Regions from separate parts of the Homo sapiens genome. Here region 2 is linked to region 1. The links come from fine-mapping of genetic effects on gene expression. A gene starts in region 1. The other region holds a variant in brackets. All regions are shown on one strand. Distances are between the middles of the regions. Region 1 holds the start of ZNF224 (zinc finger protein 224). Region 2 overlaps ZNF225 (zinc finger protein 225).

The links. PIP is the estimated chance that this variant, and not a neighbour inherited with it, causes the effect. A credible set is the group of variants that fine-mapping cannot tell apart.
Region 2: its variant is the best candidate, but not a certain one, in a credible set for the expression of ZNF224 in whole blood (TOPMed, PIP 0.86).

Annotation. Positions count from the first base shown.
Region 1 is chr19:44,092,487-44,096,891 of GRCh38, reverse strand. ZNF224 (zinc finger protein 224) reads right to left here and starts at 2,531. Exons shown (of 6, transcript NM_001321645.3): 1 at 2,362-2,531; 2 at 461-549. RefSeq lists an enhancer at 2,612-2,721.
Region 2 is chr19:44,132,511-44,136,915 of GRCh38, reverse strand. ZNF225 (zinc finger protein 225) reads right to left here. Exons shown (of 5, transcript NM_013362.4): 5 at 2,094-4,405. The coding sequence ends at 4,181. Among named protein-coding and RNA genes, the nearest start is that of ZNF234, 6.8 kb to the left of the region's middle. The variant C/T (reference allele first, on the strand shown) is at 2,133.

The sequences.
Region 1 (4,405 bases):
AACAATGCATAATGTGAACCCGCACATGAATTACATCAGACACAACTCCAAATGAATGCCTTTCTCCAAAATAACTTGCCTATACTCTTCAAAAATATCAAGCATAGAAAGACAAAGGGTGTAGAATCCTCAAGATTAAAGATTATGGAAATGTGACAATTAAAGGCAATGCATAAAATTAGACTGTGAACACAGGTGGTGGTGGCAGATGGGTAGGGGACACTTGTAAGAACCTTAAGTGAAAAATAGAACAAATTTAAATATAGAACTGCAGAGTACATAACATGAAGTTAGGTAATATGTTATCTAGCACTGTATAATAGATAATACAATAAACTACTATTAGCAGTCTTTGGATAGATATCTAATATTTAATAAATAACATTATCTGGTATACAATCTGAAATTATCTAATATGTTATGTGAAACCATATACTAGGTCTTCCTAAATTCTACTTACCAAGACAGCCCCTGGTACGTGGGCTTCCTTGCTGCAGAAAGCTATAATCAGCTGTCTCTGGTTACAGGTATGTTTCTAGTGGTATTCAGCTGATGGTCATCAACAAAACAAACAGGAAAAATGTAAACACTTGGCAAACGTGGGTAAAGAGTAAATAAGAATTTCTTAGGCTACTTTTGCAACTTTTCTATAGGTTTCAAATGACATGAAAATAAAAAGTTTTATAATTTTAGGAAACAGTCATAGGAAAAATAATAACAATAATGAGATTAATGAGTATGATATAACATGATAATTCACTAGTTTAGTCTGTCAGCATTTGGAAATTTCCATAGTTAAACACATAAGGGGGAAATATTAAGAAAAAAATTATAAAAATTTGTAAATGTTCATAAATAAACCTATAAATATACAAAAAGAAAGAAACACATTACGAGCTTAACAGTTGCTACCTTTACTTCATGGATTCGTAGGTAATAAAAACATTTTGTTCTTTTTTTTTTTTTTTTGAGACGGAGTCTCGCACTGTCGCCCAGACTGGAGTGCAATGGCAGATCTCCGCTCACTGCAACCTCCGCCTCCCAGATTCAAACGATTCTCCTGCCTCACCCTCCCGAGTAGATGGGATTACAGGCGCCCACCACCACGCCCAGCTAATTTTTGTAATTATTTTTTAGTAGAGATGCGGTTTCACCATGTTGGCCAGGCTGGTCTCGAACTCCTGACCTCGTGATCCGCCCGCCTGGACCTCCCAAAGTGCTGGGATTACAGGCGTAAGCCACCGCGCCAGGCCCATTTTGTTCTTAATAAAGAAAAATAGAATGCTGTACAATGACATGGTTCTATAAGAATACAAAATATTTGTAATGATTGAAACAAAATAGTTGACAACATTTTTAGAAACTCAGAAAATTTCAAGCCCCTAAGTCTTGCTTTCCCCACCTAAGTCCAACTAGTTCCTCTGCCTCAGTGACAACGTATCCCAAGAGAAGATCAAATCAGGCTCTGACCCAGACTGCTTAGGTTCCAACCCCAGCTCCACCTCTCACTAGTCGGGTGCCTATGCGCTCTGTGTCTCACTTTCGTTTTTAAAATAGAAAAAAGCAATACTTCTCCACAGAGCCACGGTGTGGCGTAAATTTATTTGTATAAAGCCCTTAGAATGAAGTTACTAATTAAGACTTAATTATTATCGACCCCCATGCCCGAGGACACAACCTATACACTCTCGGTTGGGGTGAGCATCTCGGTCAAAGAGCCAAGGACCACTCACGTAGAGCTTTGCCCTCAGAAGCCAAGAAGTCCCTCCCTGCAGCTCTTCTGGAAAGGTCGGGTTGGGGAACGAGAAAGCTGTGAAACACCTTGACCGCGTCGCCGTCCCCCATAAAAGTTAAATGCTCCTTTCCCTTCATGAAAGTGGACGCAACCCTCGCTCTCCTAAAAAGAGGTCAGAAGGCTTCCGGGATCATCCAGCGTCCTGCAGGGATCAGGGAGAAGGGCCGAGGCCCCTGCAGCTGGAGCTCTGACCCCACCCGGTCCTTCGTGGGAAATTAACAAGAGACCACCAGTCACCAAGTGACAGGGACTGCTTTAAGGCTCTCATTTGTGTTACCTCTTCCAGTTCCCAAAACGATTCCATTAGGATGGCCCTAAAGTCCCCATTTTAAAGAACAGTAACGGGAAACCCAAGGAGATTAACACCCCAACGTTATATCGAGAAGAAGTGGCCACGCGCGTGGGGTGCAGGGGGCGGAGTGGGCGAGCTCAGAGCCCCGGAAACCCTGAAACCAGGTGAGACGCGACCCAACCAAGTACCAATGCCCCCGGGAAGCGAGGACAGACCCAAGCCCAAGAAGGTGCCACGGACGAGAACGCAAACAGCGGCCCTTGCCCCTCCAAACCTCTACTCTCCGACGAGGCCCCTTTTCCCCTAATTCGATCACCAGTTCTTTGAGGATCCAATGCGTAGGTCCAGGAAATTCAGAAGGGCCTGCAACGCGCGGAACTGCCCCAAACTATCGCGGAAAAACTGCAGCAACCTCAGTCCCCGAGCGGAAGTGTCCGCGACTCCACCGAATGTTTGGACTCCACTTCCCAGAATTCCCCGGGACCCGCCAGCCGGAGCCAAACTGACCGCGACTCCACTGAGCGTCTGGACTACACTTCCCAGAATTCCCTGGGACCCAACTGCCGGAGCTAAACCGACCGCGATTCCACTGAGGGTCTGGACTGTACTCCTGCAGCATTACACTCAAAGGGAAGTGTTGACGACTACTGGGAAGCCCTTGACCACTCTTCCCACGGGGAACGAATCTCGTACCCCCGAGCGCCTGTTGGGAAATGTGGACTTCTACCCTGAGAGTCGTCCTTCCCTCTCCCTGGGTGCCTAAGAGAAAATACCGTATAGAAAGGAATTCCTGAAGTCTAAACCCCTCTAGTGAGGACAGGAGTGTTACTGGAAAGGGAACAAGCGAGATGATACACTCTTCAAATAAGTTTTGCCAGTGGTAAGAAATGGCATGTAGTTTTAATTTATAACTCTTGTAAAGATGGCATATTCTTGCATATTTTCAGGTGTCATTATTACATTTTTTGTAAATTGTCCAGATGTTTTGCCCACTTTCTTATTGAGTTTTTGGTTTTATCCCTCACTTTTCAAGCACTGTTCTTATATTCATGATATTAACATTTTATCTCGCAAATATTTTCTCAACAAAAACGTTTTTTTTTATTGTTTTATCTATGCAAAACATTTTAATGTATTTTATTATTTAAAACATCTCTATTGAGGTGTAATGCACAAAACGTGAAATTCACCATTTTAGGATATATGTAGTACAAATAAAAAGTTAGGAAACATTTTCATCACCCCAAAAACCCCATACCCACTAAGCAGTCACTGTCTAACACTAATCTCTGTCCTATTGAATTACCTATTGTGGACATTTCATATAAATGGAATTATACATTATGGAACCTTTTGTTTCTGACACCTTTCACTTAGCATCCTGCTTCTTTTTTTTTTTTTTGAGACGGAATCTCAAAAAAAGTGCCAGGCTGGAGTGCAGTGGCACGATCTTAGCTCACTGCAACCTCCGCCTCCCGGGTTCAAGCGATTCTCCTGTCTCAGCCTCCCGAGTAGCTGGGACTACAGGCGCGTGCCACCACGCCTGGCTAATTTTTCTGTATTTTTAGTAGAGACGGGGTTTCACCGTGTTAGCCAGGATGGTCTCGATCTCTTGACCTCGTGATCCTCCCGCCTCGGCCTCCCAAAGTGCTGGGATTACAGGCGTGAGCCACCGCGCCCTGCCAGCATACTGCTTTTAAAGTTCATCCACATCACAGCATGTACCAGTACTTCATAATATTTTATGTTTCTACTACGATTTGTTTTTTTTGTTTGCTTTGTCTTGTTTTGTTTTGAGGTGGGGTTTCCCTCTTGATGCCCAGGCTGGAGTGCAATGGCACGATCTCAGCTCACTGCAACCCCCGCCTCCTGGGTTAAAACGATTCTTCTGCCTCAGCCTCCCAAGTAGCTGGCATTACAGCCATGCGCCACCACACCCAGCTAATTTTTTTGTATTTAGTAGAGACAGGGTTTCACCAGGTTAGTCAGGCTGGTCTCGAACTCCTTACCTCAGGTGATCCGCCCACCTCAGCCTCCCAAAGTGCTGGGATTACAGGCTTGCGCCACAATTTGTTTATCCATTCATTGATTGAGGGACATTTGGGTTCTTTCCACCTTTTGGCTGTAGTCAATAGTGTTGCTACAAACAGTGGTGTACAAGTATTTGTTTCATCACCTACTTTCAATTCTTTGGGGTATATACCTAGATATGAAATTTAGTGATTCATATGGTAATTCTATGTTGGGAACCACGAAACAATTTTCCACAGCAACTGCACCATTTTTACATTCCCACCTTCAGTGTGTGAGGGTAGTAA
Region 2 (4,405 bases), 40 kb before region 1:
AAGTATATGTAACATCCTAAAGTTATAACAGTCTTTTAAATTGATACCAACTTAACTTCAATCAGATATAAAAACCCTACTCCTTCACAGCTCTTTCCTTCCCGCACTGTTACTGATCTCATAGTACATCTTTACATATCGTGTACTTATTTACATAGATTGGTAGTCATTTTTATGCATTTGTCTTTTACGTTGTATGGAAAATAAAAACTGGGATTACAAACTAAAATTACTATCATAATGTTGTTTGTATTGCTTCATGCAATTGCCTTTAGTATAGATCTTTATATTTTCATATGATTTCAAGTTATTGTCTAAAATCCTTTCATTTCAACTTGAAGGATTGATTCCCTTTATCAATTTTTTTTTTTGAGATGGAGTCTCACTGTGTTGCCCAGGCTGGAGTGCAGTGGCACAATCTCGGCTCAGTGCAACCTCCACCTCCCAGGTTCAAGCAATTCTCCTGCCTCAGCCTCCTGTGTAGCTGGGATTACAGGCGCCCACGACCACGCCCGGCTAATTTTTATATTTTTAGTAAAGACAGGGTTTCACCATGTTGGCCATGCTGGTCTCAAACTCCTGGCCTCAAATGATCTGCCTGCCTCAGCCTCCCAACCTTTTCAATTCTTGAATAACTTGTCTACTGGCAATTCTCTCAGCTTTTGTTTTTCTGAAAAGTTATTAATTGATCTCTCATTTTGGAAGTATAGTTTTGCTGAATATAGAATCCTCAATATACCAGGTTTTTTTCCAGCACTTTAATACATCATCTGGCCTTGGAGGTTTGCTGAGAAATCCACTGATGATCTTTTTTTTTTTTTTTTTTTCTTTTTTGAGACAGTCTCCCTCTGTCACCCAGGCTGGAGTGCAGTGGCATGATCTCGGCTCACTGCAATCTCTGCCTTCCAGGTTCAAGTGATTCTCCTGTCTCAGCCTCCTGAGTAGCTGGCACTATAGGTGTACACCACCACGCCTGGCTAATTTTTGTAGTTTTAGTACACACAGGGTTTCACCGTGTTGGCTAGGCTGGTCTCAAACTCCTGACCTCAAGTGATCCACCTGCTTCAGCCTCCCAAAGTGCTGCGATTATAGGCATGAGCCACTGTACCTGGCCAGAGCCATTGATGATATTATTGAGGATCTCTTGTACATGACAAGTCACTTTCATGCTGCTGCTTTCAAGATGTTCCTTGTCTTTTTGATTATAATGTGTCTCAGTGTGAGTCTCTTTGGATTTATCCTACTTGAAAACAAGAATTCAGTCACTGCCAAAATGTGTGATTATTTCTCTTTTTGAGTACACAGTCACAGAAGTTCATGACCATAGGTCCTTATGGAGATCTCTGGGGAAAAAATTAGTGCTGTAAATTTTTTGCAATCTAGCAGGGTCCATCCTTATCCAGAACTGCCCTCCCACCCCATCAAAGGAATTGTGGATTTGTAAAGTGGACATGTCTTGGAATTTATTTTTGGGCTGTGAGTCTGCATTAGACGATTCAAGTTACACTTTGGTTCACTTGAAATAGAAACCTTCTACCTATATAGATTATGTAACAATTTAATAGACTTCTCATAAACTTATTTTTTTGAGATGGAGACTCACTGTATCACCCAGGCAGGAGTACAGTGGCACGATTCTGGCTCACTGCAAACTTCCGCCTCCTAGGCTCAAGCGATTCTCCTGCCTCAGCCTCCTGAGTAGCTAGGATTGCAGGCGCACACCACCACACCTGGCATATTTTTTGTATTTTTAGTAGAGATGAGGTTTCACCACATTGGCTAGGCTGGTCTAAAACGCCGCCTCAGCCTCCCTAAATGCTGGAATTACAAGCGTGAGCCACCATGCCCATCCTCATCAATTTATTTATTATGTTATGGATAATAAGACCAACAAAGGAAGGTCAACTAACCTGACTTGAAGCCTCCCTCCTTTTTCAAATGCAGAGGAAGGATGATAATCTGTAATAATCCCCACCGATTGTGAAAATATAACCAAGTCAAAGTTATATTAGGGAACTCACCAGTGTCCACAAAAGAAAAAGGAAATCAAATCTGTGGTGAAAAATGGCAAAGAATATTAGCCCCACATAAGCTCAGGGTACTAGATATAGAACTAGGTATTTAATATTCAG[C/T]GTGGTTGGGAGAAACAGAAATATTAACAAGAAACACAATCAGTCCCACATGTTAACACCATGTTGTAACCAAGTTGATGATCCAGGACACACCAGAGAGCAGACATAGACCCTACCAAACTTTTAATAATTATAATAAGCAAGTATTTTCTGTTTAATCTGCTGAGTGTTCTGTTACAGTTACCTTGGAGATGAGCTATTCTGGTATCGGTGACAGTTAAAAACCAAAACACACAAAACAAAAAGAAGACTGAGCCAACAGTTTTCTAGTACTATGTGCACAAAAAGTTAATATAACAGGCCTGAGACTGCAAATCTTAGAAAGGACTGCTTATAAGACTGGCCTTTAGCTGGTGTTAGGAAACACGGAGTTTGAGAGGGTTGCCACCATTCCATAACTGGTAGGCATGGTTCAAGTTATTCTGAACACTTGCTCCCCTTCTTGGAGTCTAGAATCTTGATATGTACCAGAGGGATGGTACCTACATGATTAGTTCCAATAAGAACCTTTGGTACGGGTTGATAATTAATTTCCATTGTAGACATTTCACAAGTACAGTCACAATTCAATACTGGAGGAATTGAGACCTGTTACTCCATGCACAAAGGATCTTTACAAATTTACATCTGATTCCCTCCAGATATTATACAAGAACCTTTTCCCTTTGCTGATTATTTGTATCCTGTCACTATAATATAGTCATGAGTACAACTATATTCTGAGTCCTCTTAGCAAATCATAGAATCTGGAGAGATTGTCTTAGGGACCTCCAACCCACTATGCAAATTGAGACAGCATGGATCTTCATAAAGTACCTAGCATCCTGAAAAGATACAGTCTAGAACATTAAGTATAAAAATCAAATCTATCTCTAGTAGATTTGATTATAAAAATCAAATCTATCTCTAGTAGATTTGATTATAAAAATCAAATCTATCTCTGGTAGATTTGATTATAAAAATCAAATCTATCTCTAGTAGATTTGATTATAAAAATCAAATCTATCTCTAGAGATAGATTTTGCTGAAGAAAGCCTTTTAACCTAATGTACTCAAAATATCACCACGGTGTCTATGAATGGAATGGCGCTCAATCCTGCTCTTTGTCCTAACTGGTTCCAGACTGTTAGAGGCCGCACTGCTGTCATGCTATTGTTCCCTACCCATACACACCTTTTCTTAAAAGAATCTTTGTTGATTTTTTACATCCACATGTATACCCCTTGATTTCTATCTCCAGGATTTTTCCACTCCTTCACTTATGCTTAAAGCGAGCTCACATGCATTATGTATGAGGACAGCTGAAGACACTCACCAATTTTTCTCTATATTCAAACTAGAGAATTTTTTTTTGAAAACCAATTTCCACAATCTTATTCCTTAATTTTGAGTCATGTCATACTATTATATGATACTTGGTACATATCCAAAGAAAAGGAAATCAGTATGTTAAAGTGTTATCTCCACCCCCCCATGTTTATTGCAGCACCATTCACGATAGCCAAGAAATAGGCCAAGGTATGTAATCAACCTAAGTGTCCACTGGATGAATGAATAAAGAAAATGGGGCAAATATACACATCAGAGTACTATTTAGCCATGAAAAACAACAAAATTCTATCACTCACAGCAAAGTGAATGAGACTTACAGGGCATTATATTAAGTGATATATGCCAGGCACAGAAAGATACATACCACATGTTCTCACACATATGTGGAAGCTCAAAAAGTTAACTTCATAGAAGTAGAGAGTAGAATAGTAGTTCTTAGAGGTGAGGAGGCAGGGTGGTAGCCAAAGGTTGGTTAATGAATACAGAAATACAGGCAGGTAGGAGGAATAAGTTCTAGTGTTTTACACCACTACAGGGTGACAGTAATTAACAACGTATTATTTTCAAATAGCTAGGACAGTGAATTTTAAGGGTTCCCAACATAAATAAATGATAAATGTTTGAGGTGATAGGTATGTTAATTACACTGATTTGATCATTACACATTGTATACTTGCATTAACTATCACACTGTACCCCATAAATGAGTACAACAGTTATGTGTCATTTAAAAATAATGACAAAAGCGTATCAAGATTCAAGCGCCTCTTGTAGCGCTTCCCACAGTCCTCACATTTAGATGTTTTCTCTCCACTTTGGTCTCTTTGTTGGTCTTTAAGGCATGAACTGTGCACAATGCTCTTCCCACAGTCCTCACATTGAAGTAGTTTTTCTCTACTGTGGAGTCTCTGATGGGTTAGATGAGTTGAGGCCCATCTGAA